2 separate regions of the Homo sapiens genome follow, and region 1 is linked to region 2. The links come from fine-mapping of genetic effects on gene expression. Tissue or cell type: ileum. Region 2 holds a variant in brackets; the other region holds the start of a gene. All regions are shown on one strand. Distances are between the middles of the regions.

What was found. PIP is the estimated chance that this variant, and not a neighbour inherited with it, causes the effect.
Region 1: it holds the start of OR5B12, and the variant in region 2 is fine-mapped to the expression of OR5B12 in ileum (CEDAR, PIP 0.95).

The regions. Positions count from the first base shown.
Region 1 is chr11:58,438,473-58,446,582 of GRCh38, reverse strand. OR5B12 (olfactory receptor family 5 subfamily B member 12) reads left to right here and starts at 4,347. Exons shown (of 2, transcript NM_001004733.3): 1 at 4,347-4,537; 2 at 6,413-7,589. The coding sequence starts at 6,432. The coding sequence ends at 7,376.
Region 2 is chr11:58,826,346-58,834,455 of GRCh38, reverse strand. It overlaps GLYATL2 (glycine-N-acyltransferase like 2), which reads left to right. Exons shown (of 6, transcript NM_145016.4): 6 at 1-391. The coding sequence ends at 27. Among named protein-coding and RNA genes, the nearest start is that of GLYATL2, 14 kb to the left of the region's middle. The variant CAG/G (reference allele first, on the strand shown) is at 3,182.

The DNA.
Region 1 (8,110 bases), 390 kb after region 2:
AGGAGGATTATGGCAGCCTTTGCTGAGTCATGCAAGTTGTTAGGGAAGTCAGGGAAAGCCGGCAGTCACAGGCCTCACCCAGCTCCCACACAAACTGAAAGACCAGTCTCACTCCCACCATGCCCCACCCCAGCAGCCCTGAGTCTATTTTTAGGTGGTGGGGGAAACGGGCTTGAAAACTCGCCCCAGGCTACCTGCCTCCCATCTTCGAAAGAAAGGTGTTTGGTTGTTCCCCTGCCTGTGGAATCTGCACACCAGATTTGCGCCCTCCCCAAAGTTCTGGCCAGGAGGCTTCTTGCCCTGTTCAAATTGTTACAGAGCTCAGCTAAAGATTTCCTTCTCCCTGTGTAGTTTTACCCCCTGCTCTTCTGGCCACCCTTCCAAGGATCCCTGTGGTGTCAAGCAGGAATGGGCTGTTTGGGGGCCTAGCGAGCTCCTAGGACTTTTCTGATCCTTCTTTTACCCCTGTATTTCACTCAGCTCTCTAAATTGACTCAGCTCCAGGTAAGGTCAGAACTTTCTCCCACAAACAGACCTTCAATTTCTCTAGTGGGGGGTGTGTGTTCGGGACAGGAGGTCTCCCTTTCCCACTTCTGCAGTTGGGGCAGTCACGGTGTTTGGAGTGTGTCCCAGGTCCTGCTGGAGCAGTCCACTTCTTTCAGAGGGTCTGTGGGTACTCTCGAGATTGATGGTTTGTTCTTAAAGTTGATCTGGAGCTTAAATTCAGAATGTGAGCCTCCACACACTGCTCTGTCCAGAATTATAATCTAGTCCTGCCTCCCCTCTGCCATGATGATCTCCATAGGCTTTCTTCATTTCTTTTTATCCTTTTTACTTTTTTCTTCTCTGATTTTATTTTTTCAAATAATCTATCTTCAAGTTTACAAATTCTTTCTTCTGTTTGATCAATTCTGCTGATGACCTGCATTTGGTATTTTATGCATTGTATTCTTCCACTCCAGGCTTTATGGAGTTTTTAAATTCTTAATCTCTTTGTTAAACTTCTTGTTTTGCTCATATATTGTTTTACTGGTTTCAATTTGTTGTCTCTCTGTGTTCTCTTTTAGTTTGCTGAGCCTCCTTAAGACAACTATTTTGAATTCTTTGTCAGGCAGTTTGTAGATCTCCATTTCTTTGGGGCTTGTTACTGGAAATTATTATTACTACTATTATTTGAGACAAGGTTTTGCTCTGTCCCCAAGGCTGGAGTGCAGTGACACAATCATGGCTCACTGCAGTCTCAAACTCCTGGGCTCAAGTGATTTTCCTGCCTTAGGCTCCCTGGTATCTGGGACTACAGATATATGCCACTATGCCCACCTAATTTCTTTATCTTTAGTAGAGACAGGGTCTTGCTCTGTTGCCCAGGCTGGTCTTCACCTCCTGAACTCAAACATTTCTCCTGCCTTGGCCTCCCAAAGGGCTGGGATTACAGGCAAGAGCCACTATGCCTGGCTGATATTATTCTTTTGGTGGTAACATATTTCCTTGTTTTTTCATATATCCTGTTATCCTTCATTGATGTCTGCACATTTGGTAGAACAGTCACCTCTTCCTGACTTTATGTGCTGGTTTCACTGGGAAAAGGCTTTCCCTTAAGGGAGAGTGCTATGGCACTGACTGGGAGAGATTTGGCGGTTTGGGCTCTGGCAAGGGTGCAGTGGCATAGTCTTTGTGCTGCTCTGTCAACTTAGGTTGGCATTGGTGAAGATTGCAGGGATTTTAGAAGCCAAGACTGTGGGTATCAATAGCAGCAGTAAGAGCTAATGGGGTCTTCAGTGGTGAAGGCCACTGAGGTTTTCTCAATCTCTTTTTATTCCACAGGGAAATCATGGCTGAGGAGATCACTTTTGGCACAGTGTCCAGTGGGTACACCTGTAGTTGTGGTGACACTGATATCAGATGCATGGTGCTTGTGCAACAGTCCTGGAGTCAAGATCTGAAGCATGGACATGCACAGAGGCATAATCACTCTGGAGTCTGAAGTGTCGATGACATGAATGCCTTGGGTGTAGATGCCCCACTGCTGCATTGATAACTGTGTGTGGGGCACAGATGCTTGTAAAGCAGCTGAGAAGCTGGGGGCCAAAGTCCAGGCATGTGCAGAGATACAGTGGCTCTAGGGTCCAGAGTGTAGGTTTGCTCAGAGCTACCGTGACTCTGGGCTCTGGGCCTCAAGCTGCTCAATATTGTAGTGGAGTTGGTGCATGAAGTGAGTATGCACACACAGCAACTGGGGCTCTAAGGTGTGGGGTGTGGCTAACCTATAACAGTAGTGGCTCCAGTGTTTGAGGCATGTGCAAAATTGGAAGGAATGGTGGCTTTGGCCATGGGGCAACAAAGCAGTTGCCCCTTCTGGGAGCATTGGTCCAGCAGTGTTTCCTTTTCTGGGGGCTCCACGGTGGGGATGGCTGTTGATTATCTTGGTAGTGAAAGATGGCAGTGTTCTCTGTAGAGCAGGTTGCTGGGAACAATGGTGGCATTCATAACATGGTTGATAATGCTAGAACTTGCTTTTCTTTGTTCCTAGACATCTCTAGACATGTCGGTTAATACATATCTCCAACAGTCTTTTCTATGTGGTTATTCCCCTCCCACATTTTTTATTTCACTATGTTGCTACAGGTTTTTAAATGGTCCCTTGAGTCCTACTAAGGCTATTATCATTCATGGATAATTATCGGTTGATTTTTTGTGTGAGGGGAAGAGGATTGTATCTCCTATTCTGCCATCTTGTTTATGTGTCACTCTGTTTGTTTTGTTTGTCAAGGTTTCTTTGGTGGAGGATGCTGAAATAGAAATTGACAAGGAAGAGGTCTAGTTATGAAGAAAACATACTGGCTTCTTTTAGATTTTGTTAACTGTTTTGAAACTTGGGTCCTTTACTACATACATTTCATTTTGTTTGGAATGATCTTTTCCATACTAGTTCTTTGTCATTTTTAAACTTGGCTGAAATCTTTTTTTTTTTTTTGAGACGGAGTCTCGCTCTATCCCCCTGTCCCCCAGGCTGGAGTGCAGTGGTGCGATCTCGGATCGCTGCAAGCTCCGTCTCCCGGGTTCACGCCATTCTCCTGCCTCAGCCTCCCGAGTAGCTGGGACTACAGGCGCCCGCTACCACGCCCGGCTATTTTTTTGTATTTTTTAGTATAGACGGGGTTTCACCGTGTTAGCCAGGATGGTCTTGATCTCCTGACCTCGTGATCCGCCTGCCTCGGCCTCCCAAAGTGCTGGGATAACAGGCTTGAGCCACCGCGCCTGGCCAAACTTGGCTGAAATCTTAATTTTCCAGAGAAAACATTCTGACCAAACAATATAAAGTAGACTTATTTTTTATCTCATTTTTATGTATAGTTACATGCTTATTCCACACATAATTATATATATGTACATATGTATTTATATGTGTAAATATGCATATTTACGCATGTTTCTTACGGGGTTTATTTGCTTACTGTCTATCTTCTCCATTAGATTTAAACACCATGGGCACAAGAATGATGTTTATTTTGAATGGGTCTATGTTCTCAGCTCTCATTACTATGGCTAAAATCCATTTGCAATCAATAAACAGTTGATGAATTAATATTTCTTCTCAATGGTTCAAACATTTAAGGTGAATTAAAAGAAGTACTAATCCCTGAAGTCCACATCCCTTATTTAATGATAAAATGTATGTCTCTGTCTCTTAGTATTTATGTCAAATAACAGTCTTGAAGGACATGCTGTGGCTTAATTTGTGCATTACCCAAGAGAATAACTGAAAGTAACATAAATACACTCATGATCTCCCACAACAAGCAGAGCTGAATCCCCATAGATACTTTAATCACCTGATTTCCAGTTATGTGAGATAAAGTGTTTTGTAGACCTCATAGAGTATGTGTCGCCTGAGAGCTCCATGACCATACAATTACCTCCTGGTTCCCACTTTTCAACTGATCAAGTACCTATATGATTCCATTTGGCTTCATATTAGAGGGAGCAGCCCCAGAACCAGAGTCACTTTGACCATTTATTTATTCGTCTGATTGTCAATAGTCATCTAGTAGTAACTATGGCCTTCTCCAAAACTGATACATAGCAAAGAGCCTACAACAATGTTTAGGAAAAAAACCAGTAATTATTATATTAATTGAGGTTATGATTATCACCTCTTACCAAGTATAAGAAATTGTAGGTTTCCTATTCTTTTCTTACCATAGCAGCAGTTTTCAGGCTGGATGTTGTTAGGGCTATCTTTTAATATTTTCTTTTTTATAGATTCAGCTATTGATATTCAAATGGGTTAAGAGACTTATCTACAAAGAAGGGGCAGTAAATACAGGAGTAGAGCTCTTGCTAGCTGATTCCAAAGCCAATAGCATTTTTCTTTCAATTTCCCCCTGCCTCTAAAGAACTTTAAGCCTTTTGGCCAAACGCTAAAGAACAGTCTCCAAAAAGTTGTTTTCCTTCTTTAAAGGACTTAATTTCTGATGTGACATTCACTTATATATGAAAGTGCTGGACCTGAATTTTGTATTTCTCAGGGAGAAAGGTAAGTCTCTGGATCAAATCTATTGTCTGCACAAAGTTACAGGGGCAGAGGTAACTAGAAAAATGCATCGAGGTACCCCTTTCTCCTTTGGTTTAATCAGGGATTTGGCTCTAATATTTTGACTATTTCTTTTATCTGTTTCACACATCCAGAGGCTATATATGTTGAGTATTCCTCATCTAAAATATTTGGGAACAGAAGTGTTTTGGATTTTGGATTTTTTAGAATTTTTGAATATTTGCATGTTTATGAGATATATTGGGGATGAAACCCAAATTTAAACACAAAATTCATTTATGTTTTATATACACGTTATATCCATAGCCTAAGTAATTTTACATAATATTTTAAATAATTTTTGCACATGAAACAAAGTATGTGCTACATACTTATGTGTGGAATTTTCCATTTGTAGCATCATGTTGGTTCTCAAATAGTTTTGGATTTGGAAGCATTTTAGACTTTGGATTTTTGGATTAGGGATTCCCAACTTGTGTAGAATGTGTTTACTTATCATGTGACATAAAGAAAAAGCACAAGAAGGCCTCGAGTCCCTGCTTTACAAAGAATAAGATTGCATTACTTTGAGCAAGTTAAACTATTTATTTCTCAGTTTTCTTTTTCAGGAAATATGATAATATTAGTTCTCCTAATTCTACAATTGTTGAGATAGTCAAATGGAATATCAACATAAAATTTTACCATAATCTGGAAGCCCATACTAATATTTTTTTAAAAAGAGAGACAGAAGGAATGGTGATTAATAAATGAGGAAGAAATCAGGCTTACAAGCCAGTTATAAAATGCACTGAAATAGAGATGTGCAAAATTACATAAGGCACAACTAACTATTGGAATGAGGAGACCTAATCTCATGTGCTAATTCTGTCACTAAAAACATCTGGTCATTGGACACACAATTTATAAACTATATTGTGGACCGACTGATGGTCTACAGTGTAGATGTGATTAACATCTATCACACAGTTCTGAGCAAATAAGAAAACACTTCTGTCTCCTTGGGAATGGAGAATAAGAATATTCTGAACTTAAACATAATATTTATCAGTTTAGATATCTATCTGGTCAGGAAATGTATCTCTTGCATTAATGTAAACCTGGCAATTAGCATGAAACATGGTGCTCCATTCGAAATTAGAGCTTGTAGAGAGAATAAAGAAATGAACACATCCAGAGATTTATGTTGATTGGTCAATTGGTTGGTATTACTGAAGAGTCATGTTCCTTTTTAACTTTTTGAAGATTTTTTTAAGGGTTGGAAGTAGTTATAAACATTTGTGGATCCAGTTATTATCATTTAACTGAGATCCAGAAATGTAGGTTATTTGCATGAAGCCAAGAAAACTGGTAAGTATATTTGATTCCTAATTTCATGCTATTCCATTCTTCACATTGACTTACAATGATAGATTTAATTACTCCATCAGGCAGTCAGTCAATTAAATAAATTACTGTCTTGTGCCCAGTTTAGACTGAATGTAAAAGATTTAAAGGAATTTTTCTTTGTGATAAAGAGTTAAGGCTTTAATTCAAAGTGACTTGGTTTTATATTTCACCTGTTCCAATTAATTAGTCTGATGATCTTGTATGAATCTTCCTTTTCTGTACCTTAGTTCGGTAATCTATGAAATTAGGAGTTCGGGATGAATTATCTCCAAAATCATTTTATTAAGAATGCTCTATGAATTATTGTAATTTAAAGTTGCATTTTGCGGTCATGGGCATGTTTTAGATCCGGGACTCCTGGAAACAAGTAATTACAATACTGGAATAAAGCAAAAAAATGGCATGCTGATTGATCTCAGTAGTCCTCCCTCCATTTATCATTCTGATTCTGCCTTTTCATTTCTACAGGGCAGCTACATAATTCCCAATGGAGAACAACACAGAGGTGACTGAATTCATCCTTGTGGGGTTAACTGATGACCCAGAACTGCAGATCCCACTCTTCATAGTCTTCCTTTTCATCTACCTCATCACTCTGGTTGGGAACCTGGGGATGATTGAATTGATTCTACTGGACTCCTGTCTCCACACCCCCATGTACTTCTTCCTCAGTAACCTCTCCCTGGTGGACTTTGGTTATTCCTCAGCTGTCACTCCCAAGGTGATGGTGGGGTTTCTCACAGGAGACAAATTCATATTATATAATGCTTGTGCCACACAATTCTTCTTCTTTGTAGCCTTTATCACTGCAGAAAGTTTCCTCCTGGCATCAATGGCCTATGACCGCTATGCAGCATTGTGTAAACCCCTGCATTACACCACCACCATGACAACAAATGTATGTGCTTGCCTGGCCATAGGCTCCTACATCTGTGGTTTCCTGAATGCATCCATTCATACTGGGAACACTTTCAGGCTCTCCTTCTGTAGATCCAATGTAGTTGAACACTTTTTCTGTGATGCTCCTCCTCTCTTGACTCTCTCATGTTCAGACAACTACATCAGTGAGATGGTTATTTTTTTTGTGGTGGGATTCAATGACCTCTTTTCTATCCTGGTAATCTTGATCTCCTACTTATTTATATTTATCACCATCATGAAGATGCGCTCACCTGAAGGACGCCAGAAGGCCTTTTCTACTTGTGCTTCCCACCTTACTGCAGTTTCCATCTTTTATGGGACAGGAATCTTTATGTACTTACGACCTAACTCCAGCCATTTCATGGGCACAGACAAAATGGCATCTGTGTTCTATGCCATAGTCATTCCCATGTTGAATCCACTGGTCTACAGCCTGAGGAACAAAGAGGTTAAGAGTGCCTTTAAAAAGACTGTAGGGAAGGCAAAGGCCTCTATAGGATTCATATTTTAATTATAAAGAATTCACAATAAGATAATTTTTTCCACCTCATATTAATCTTTGTCTACCAAGCCCAATATTTGGGCTTCCTCATGGACAGTTTCTATTGACTGTTTTCTTAAACATATGAATTGGCCATACTTTCTTCATTCTTTAAGTGACACTTTTTTTGTTGTTAAAATCTGGACATTTTAAATAATAAAAAATAGCATATTCTAAAAATCAGATCTCTCCTCCCATCTAGGCTTTGTTTTTGTTGGTGGTACTTTTGTTTGTTTAGTGATTTTCCTGAGTTACTTATGTTAATTCTGCATTTCTTGTTGTGTGTGGCCACTGAAATTTCTACTCAGTTAGGTTAGTGGTCAACTAACAATTGGGTAAAGTTTTTTAAGTGCTTTAAATTGCTAATTCTCTGAAGCCTTATGCATGGGCTTTGCATGTGTGTGTTGGAGCACGTTTTCAGCGCTCCAGCAGTTTAAATTCTGCCTTTAATCTTCACGTCCTCTGTGCAGAGCCTCAAGTTCAGCCACAAATGAAACATTAGGTCCTCTCAGGTCTTTCCTGTGCATACATAAGGCCTTGCCCATATGCATGATTTTTGTAATCCCCAGGAATGTATGGGAGCTTTTCAAAGCCCTCTATGGATTTCTAAAGCCGTCATCAATTTTTTTTAAGAGTTTGGTTAGATTATTGTATGCTCCAACTGATATTTACATTTTCAGGCAATTGCAATGTTAAACAATTGC
Region 2 (8,110 bases):
AAATGCACCCCCAAGAAATATTGTTGATTGATTCCACTGTCCATTTCAAATCTTTCTTATCAGTAAAAAAACATTAATTCAAACACAAGCATTGTGATCTACATTAGCACAAAATGCAACTGATTATCTAGGATCTGTGTATTACTTAAGCTCACCCTTAACAGTTTTACCTTCCTTCTCCTCTGTATTCTTACAGAAAATTAGAAGCTCAATTTTATGGTCTCATAATTTCCTTTATGACAGACATCTCAGAATTAAAATCACCCAAAGCCAATCATTAGTGCCAAGATAACCCTTTAACGGCAACACTTTCTTAAATGAAGACTATTTCTTTCATGAAAAAATTCACTTTTATGACTTTCTTGTTAAAATAAAAAGTCTGCTTTTAAAAGTGTCTCCTCTGGTATTCTTCCCTTCCTTCTAAAAAGTTATCCCAAGGACTTTTAAAAAGCCCTCAGCATCATTGCTTTTTATTCGGAGTACCCTCTGAGGAGCTTTGAGATGCTCCGCTAAATTAAATTTTGTGGCCATGAGTGAAAATTTGGTTTTCTTACTTGCTTTTTATCACAAGGGGTTGCTAGGTTGAGTTGCAAATTTAAAGCTTAACTTTAAATTTTCAAGATAATTTTTATGTCTATGATGTATTAGTTTTGCCATTATAACAAATTATGATAAATATTATGACTTAAAGCAACACAATTTGTTATCTTATATTTATGGCAATCAGAAGTTCAGAATAGGATTTATGAGGCTAAACCCAACATGTTGGCAGGTACAGTTCCTTCTGGAGGTTATACGGGTAAATCAACTCCCTTGCCTTTTCCAGATCATACAGGCTGTCCTCACTCCTTAGCTTGTGTCTCTGTATCACATCATCTTTTATCTCTCTACTTTGATCATCATCGCATCACTTTCTTCTCTTCTACACTCAAATCTCCCTCTGCCTCCCTCTTAGAAGGACACTTGCATATACATAGGACCAACCTGGATAATCCAGGATAATCTCCCCATCTCAAGATTGTTAATTTAATCACACTTGTGAAATCTCTTTTGCCATATAACACTCAAAGCTTCTAGGGATTAGGACCTTAATATTTTTGGAGAGGCATTATTCGGCCACCCCTTATGTGTACAAGTGTATGTTTTTTCCTGAGCAAAGTTACCTCATACTTTCAGAATTTAAGTGTTCTCAGTCCAAGTCTGGTCATGATTTCTATATTCCAGGTCCATGTTGATGGAAAACTGAACTTACTCTAGCTTGACACCTTATCTATCTCAAATCCTATCAGCTATGACTTAAGGGTAAAGATCATTTAAAAAAATTGGTAGTTGGCCGAGCACGGTGGCTCACACCTGTAATCCCAGCACATTGGGAGGCCAAGGCTGGCAGATCGCGAGGTCCCGAGATGGAGACCAACCTGGCCAACAGGGTAAAACCCAGTCTCTACTAAAAATACAAAAATTAGCCAGGTGTGGTGGCAGGTGCCTGTAGTCTCAGCTACTCAGGAGGCTGAGGCAGGGGAGTCGCTTGAACCAGGGAGTCGGAGGTTGCAGTGAGCCAAGACTGTGCCACTGTAGTCCAGCCTGGCAACAGAGCAAGACCTCGTCTCAAAAAAAAGAAAAAAGAAAAAGTAATCAGAGCACATTCATAGAAGGGATTTGGGGGCGAAGACACCATAGATAAAAGGTTTAGTTAAATTTAGGCAAAATAGAATCAACATCTTCATCTTCAAAATATCCTTTTTGCTTGAAGATAGGTGCCTACCAAGGCTGGTAGAGATGATACAGTCAACCCACAACAGGGGACCACAGTCTGAAAATCCCTGTCATTCTCTGAAAAGAGAGAAGCTCCCAGGCACTCTGCCTTTACAGTGAGCCAGGAACTTAAGGACTTGGCTTCTCTCCAGACTCCACTTTTCCTATCCTAATTTACATTTTAGGACTTGGTCCTTATGATCAAACCTTCCAGCAGCCATGACACACCTTGGCTGTATAACTTAAAGTAGAAAGTGCTGACTCAAGATAGTATCGAAGTAATCACAGAGATGCAATAAAGTGAGTGAGAAATGTTCACACAATGATAAGACCTTACATTTTAGATAGCACTTAGATTCCAGGCAGCATTCCAAGTGTTTCACACATTTTAACACCTTTAGTACTCACAACTATCCCAAGAGGTAAGCAGGCATTGTCATTACAGAAGAGAAAACCACACTAGAGAGCATTTACATCCCTCCTCCAAGGCCATCTAATGAATAAGTGGCCAATTCAGGAAGTGAACTCAGCATGGCTTCCAAGATAGTACTCAACTTCTGAGATATAACTAGTGACAGAAGGCTAAGGCTTAATAAACATTAGCAAATTAAATTATGAATAATTGCATTTTAGCAATATCAGACTCTGGACAACAACATTCTCTTGTTGACTATGATCCATCATGTAATTTTGTACCAGAATCCTCCCAATTTCTAATAAAAAGACCCAGGGAGTCAGCCAACATACTTTATACCCCTTTTACTAATCAATTCTGATTGATCCTAGAGATAACATTAGCTCTAGAAACTCTTGCACAACTTTCAAGTCCTCACCTCAATGCCTCTGGCTGGATTTTTGTTGGCTGGATGACTTCACACAAGGGGTGCTCACACCAAATATTGAACCCAGAGATAGAGTATTTCATAGAAATATTTCTGCTATTGTGGGATCATTCTAATGTCCACAATCCTACCTAAAGCTAAGCCTAGAAGATGATTCAAACTTTGCTCCTCTAGGCAACACAAGGTAAGTGAAGTGTGAACGTTGCTTTGTGCTGCACTTGGCCAGCCTCTGGACTCTAGCTTTATTAAGAGAAGATGACAGTTGCCAAAAAAGTAACTTGTTGCTAAAAATTTACCAAAGTTGGTTAGTTAAGATTGGGTTCAAGTAGCAATGATCAACTTGAGTTACTCTGAGCATGAACAAAGTGTTTTATTTATTTGAATATAAATTAAAAATATAAAGATATGGATTCTCAAATACAAGAATATAGATTGACCCCCAGGAAAAAGGATAGACCCTGGAAATGGAAAACTACCAGGGGCTCTGGGACCACTTTTTCTCCATGCTTGTTTTCTCTGGACAGACAGGCTTAAAAAGTACACACACACACACACACACACACACACACACACACACACACACA[CAG/G]TGGTAAAATATATATAACATAATATTTATTATTCTAACCACGGTAAGTACAATGCAGCGGTATTAAATATATCCACAATATTATATAACCATTCTCATTGTTTCAGAGGCGCAGACTGCAGAGCCGCCCAGGTCCTGAGCCTGGGAGGGCGGTTGCAGCTGCACCTCTGGGAGCTCTCGCCCTGCCAATACGCAAGAGGCAGGGCTCCCGCTTGTCCCCTGCTCCCCTGGCTCCCTGTAGCTTGCAGCCCCCGGGATGCCTCCGAAATGGGAACGGGCGCTGACAGCGGAGAGAAGCCACGCAGTGGGAGCAGGCACTTCCGAGCCTGTGGGAGGCAGAGGGGTCTTCCTGGGCCCCCAAGAACACAGAGACGCGTGATCCCGAGAGCCGAGAGCCGTGGCAGGGCGGCTGCAGGGGCACCCAGGGAGGGCGGGGCTCCTGCCGGCTCCGTGGAGCGTTATAGCTCTGGCCAGAGCCTCTCCGCGGTATCCTGTGTCTTGATAGCGGCGGCTCTAGATGGGCAGCTGTTTCCGTCACTATTACGTACACCTAAAACTTTTTCATCATCTCCAGCATGAACTCTGTACCCATTAAACAACTCCTCATACTCCCCTCCCTCCCAGATCCTGGTAACCTCTATTCTATGGTCTCCATGAATTTCTCTACTTTGGGCATGTCACAAAAGTGGATTCATACAATATGTATATATCATTTTGTATCTGACTTATTACACTTAGCATAACGTCATCAAGGTCCATTAATATTGTAGCATATATCAAAATTTAGCTTTTTTGTGGCTGAATAATATTCTACTGTATATATACACCATATTTTGTTTTTCCATTCATCTGTTGATGGACATTTGTGTTGTTTTCACCTTTGGCTATTGTGAATAACGTTGCTATGAATGTGAGTATACAAATATGTTTGAGGCCTTACTTTCAGTTCTTTGAGGTATATGTCTAGGAGTGAAGCTGCTGAATTACATGGTAGTTCTATGTTTAGCTTTTGGAGGAACTGCCAAACTGTTTTCCACAGTGGTTGCACTCTTTCTTTCCTTCCAGCAAAGCACAAGCGTTCCCTTTTCACTCCACATCCTTGTCAATAACTGTTATTTATCCCCTTTAAAAGAATTATAGCCATTCTAGTAAATGTAAAATGATATTTCATTGTGGTTTTGGTTTGCATTTCCCTAATGACTCATAATATTGAACATTTTTTATGTGCTTATTGGCCATTTGTGCAGATAGGCTCTTGAATTACAGCTCTAAATTTTTGCATTTCTGCCATTCAAATGACTCACTCAGATAGATACTTAACTTTCTTAGTCACAACTCCAAATTCATCAGTGACTACACCACTACACCTAAATGCAGCAGCCAGGTGCCCACTCCTGGCCCAGTCAGTTATGGCAAGTTCTGTGGCCCAAATACTATATCAAATAGTACCTCCTGGTGTCCCTTTGGGTGGAACAGAAGTGGGCAAGGGAAAGAAGTTAGCAGGAAAGGAATTACTTTTATCTGGAAATACCAAAAACTGACAACATTTCTCTTTTATTTATTTTATTTTACTTGGATTAGGATAAAACCACTGAACACAATAACTACACAATATTTGGCAAAAAATCCTCAATAAACTAAAGAAATAAGCTGAGTATTTTCTATGCAGAAAGCAGTATGTTCAGCTGAACTTGCTTCTCTTTTAGTTTTCTGATGGCCAAGCCCTAGTAGAACATTTAGGAATCAACTTTTCTCCTTATTTTTTTTTTTTTATAACTTTGGCATGTCTCTGTTCTGCCAGCCCCAAGTTGGCCCGTCCCTGTTACAGAGAAAGAAGACAAGGAACCTGCTGTCTTCTGTAGTTCCCAACATTTTATGCTTTTCTTCTTTAATCTTTTAGAAACTTTCTCCAAGGTAGAAAGATTTTTGAGGTGGCTCTTTAGGAAAGATTAAGAAAGCATTGGCAGGCATATTGGTGGCTTGGTGTGGAGAGCCAGTGGGAAAGCTTCAGTAAATTGCGTAGATCAGAACCACTTTTCACAGAAACTTTCCTTACTTATATGACATTTCCAAAAGGGAGTGGCAATACAACATACAATAACCTAAACAGTGGCCTATAAAGTGATATACTGTCACATCTAACTCAGGATGTGGTACACTGTAAGGGATGACGAGTTGAGGCTCAGAGACTAGGTTCAAGTTTTAGTTCTCTCTCTTGCTAGCTATGTGATCCATAGTAAGACCCTTCAACTCTCTGAGCCTCAGTTTCCTCATCTGTGGAATGGGGTAATTATGCCAATTTGGAATTGGCTTATTTATTGTATGTATAATATATAATATTGTAATGATCAAATGCAATAAAATAAAGAGTTTCTAGTATATAGGACATGCTGAAAAAATGGTTGTTTGATGATAATGTTGTTATAGTAGATATTTAATAAGTATTAGTACCTCTTTGATCCCCACTAGTCCCTCAAATTCTTTCTTAGCAGCCATTTTGACCCTGAAACTTTGAGACATGTCTCAGTTAATTTAGAATGTTTATTTTGCCAAGGTTGAGGACACATGCCGATGACACAGCCTCAGTAGGCCATGACAACATGTGCCCAAGGTAGTCAGAGCATAGTTCGGTTTTATACATTTTAGGGAGACATGAGACATCAATAATCAACATATGTAAGATGAACATAGGTTCGGTCTGGAAAGGCGGGACAACTTGAAGCAAAGGTGAGACAACACAAAGTGGGAGGGGGCTTGCAGGTCATAGGTAGATAAGAGACAAATGGTTGCATTCTTCTGAGTTTCTGATTAACCTCTCCAAAGGAAGCAAATAGATATGCATTTATCTCATTGAGCAGAGGGTTGACTTTGAATAGAATGAGAAACAGGTTGGCCCTCAGGAGTTCCCAGCTTGACTTTTTCCTTTAGATTAGTGATTTTGGGGGCCCAAGATGTTTTCCTTTCACATTTCCTCCCTTTTCTTTTTAAAAATCTTTTGGATAAATTATTTTAGAAGAAAATGACTCTCTGGTCCCAGGTTTTGTCTCATCTCTCATGGCTAAGATGGTTTATTCCTAGACAGGTAAGTCCTACATTATTAGGAAGGCTCATTTTTAGAAGGTTGTGAAGTCTCTTGTCCTATGAAGAGAAAATATGTGGAGAAAGGGAAAAAAAACAACAACAACAAGCAAAAGAACAATCCTGGAAAATCACTATAGGCCACATTACTCTGAAGTCCATATATCAGTAGGAAGGTATGAAAGTGGCTTATTTATATAAATAGGTTGCTATTATTTTCTTCTGAAGATTAAGTTATCTAGCTTCAGTTTGCAGGGCTTTACAAAGTCACAGCTTAGTTTTCTGTGACTCCAAATTAGGAAAAATACAAGAAAAAAGAAGGAGGCCGGGTGCGGTGGGTCACGCCTCTAATCCCAGCACTTTGGGAGGCCGAGACGGGCAGATCACGACGTCAGGAGATCAAGACCATCCTGGCTAACACGGTGAAACCCCGTCTCTACTAAAAATATAAAAAAAAATTAACCAGGCTTGGTGGCAGGCACCTGCAGTCCCAGCTACTCAGGAGGCTGAGGCAGGAGAATGGCATGAACCCGGAAGGTGGAGCTTGCAGTGAGCTGAGATCGTGCCACTGCACTCCAGCCTGGGTGACAGAGTGAGACTCCATCTCAAAATAAATAATTAATTAAATAAATAAAAATTTTAAAAAGAAGGAAAAAAATTGAACATTATTTTGAAAACTTGTAGCAAAGAAAAATTAGAATTCAGTCCAAAATGTAGAAAATAATAACAATGGAAAAATATTAGGCAAGACTAGAATCTAACAACAGGTATACTATAGTTTTTAAAACATAATTTTTCTGTCTCCACTTTCTCATATTTGCTAAAGACAAAAATCATGGTAAGACTGGTTTGCTTTATTATACTTGGCCTAATTATTTGTATACAGTATGGCAAGAATAATTATTTTTATATAGGCTTTTAAATTGGCTTTGATGGAACTTTGTTCCATAGAAGGAACTTCAGATAAGACTTTTTTTAAAGCTGAGCTCAGCCATGGATTTGTGTCATCAAATACCTATGAGTTGGGTGATCCTCCTCACTTGAGGTTCCAAGATATACTTGGGGCTCCTGGGACTGTCAGAAAGTGATATTCTTTACTCATCACAGATCAGGAACCCTGAACAGGGGCTGTGCAGAAAAAGATATGAGGACAGTTTTTCCAAGGGGCTTTTTTTGGCTCCATAAGTCAAGTTTGATTCCTTAAAGGAAAGTACACCATTCCAGTCAAAGCCTTGGGAAAATAACCAGTTTCTCCAATTTGTGTCCTGTTACAAATGAAAACAGATTCTTATTGCACTTGTGATAATAATTGTATTGTCATAAATTAAGAATTCTCACAAATAGTTTCCAAATTCTAGAGAAATCAGGTAGAGAGAAACAAATATGCTCCAAATTTTGTTCATATGAGTATACTTTACTCAATTGATAAAATCTGCAAATAGCTTAAAAGTTTTCTTGACTCTGAAAAACAAAGCTAAGAAGATTGCTTTAGTCTTCAATTAGTTCAGTTCACAAAGTTAACTCCTGTTCTCCTTGATATTCATGAACATTTCAGCTCTCCATGAGAGTGCTAAAAGTTTTTTCCTTTATTCTAATGTTACAATCTCCAAAGTTGTCATAAACCTGCATTCAAGAACACCTGTTTAAGTTCTGTAGTTGATTATAAAATCACCTGCTAAGGAGGATTTAAATGAGACAAAAATTGTCTGTGGATGACAAAAGGTTTTAGGGCAGCCATAGTCAAAGGCACAATTGACAAATCTTTTATCTATGTGTCACACAATAATTTGACATGACAATTTTAATTATTGCTGATAATGTACACTAAGTCATGGCAGAATTATATGAG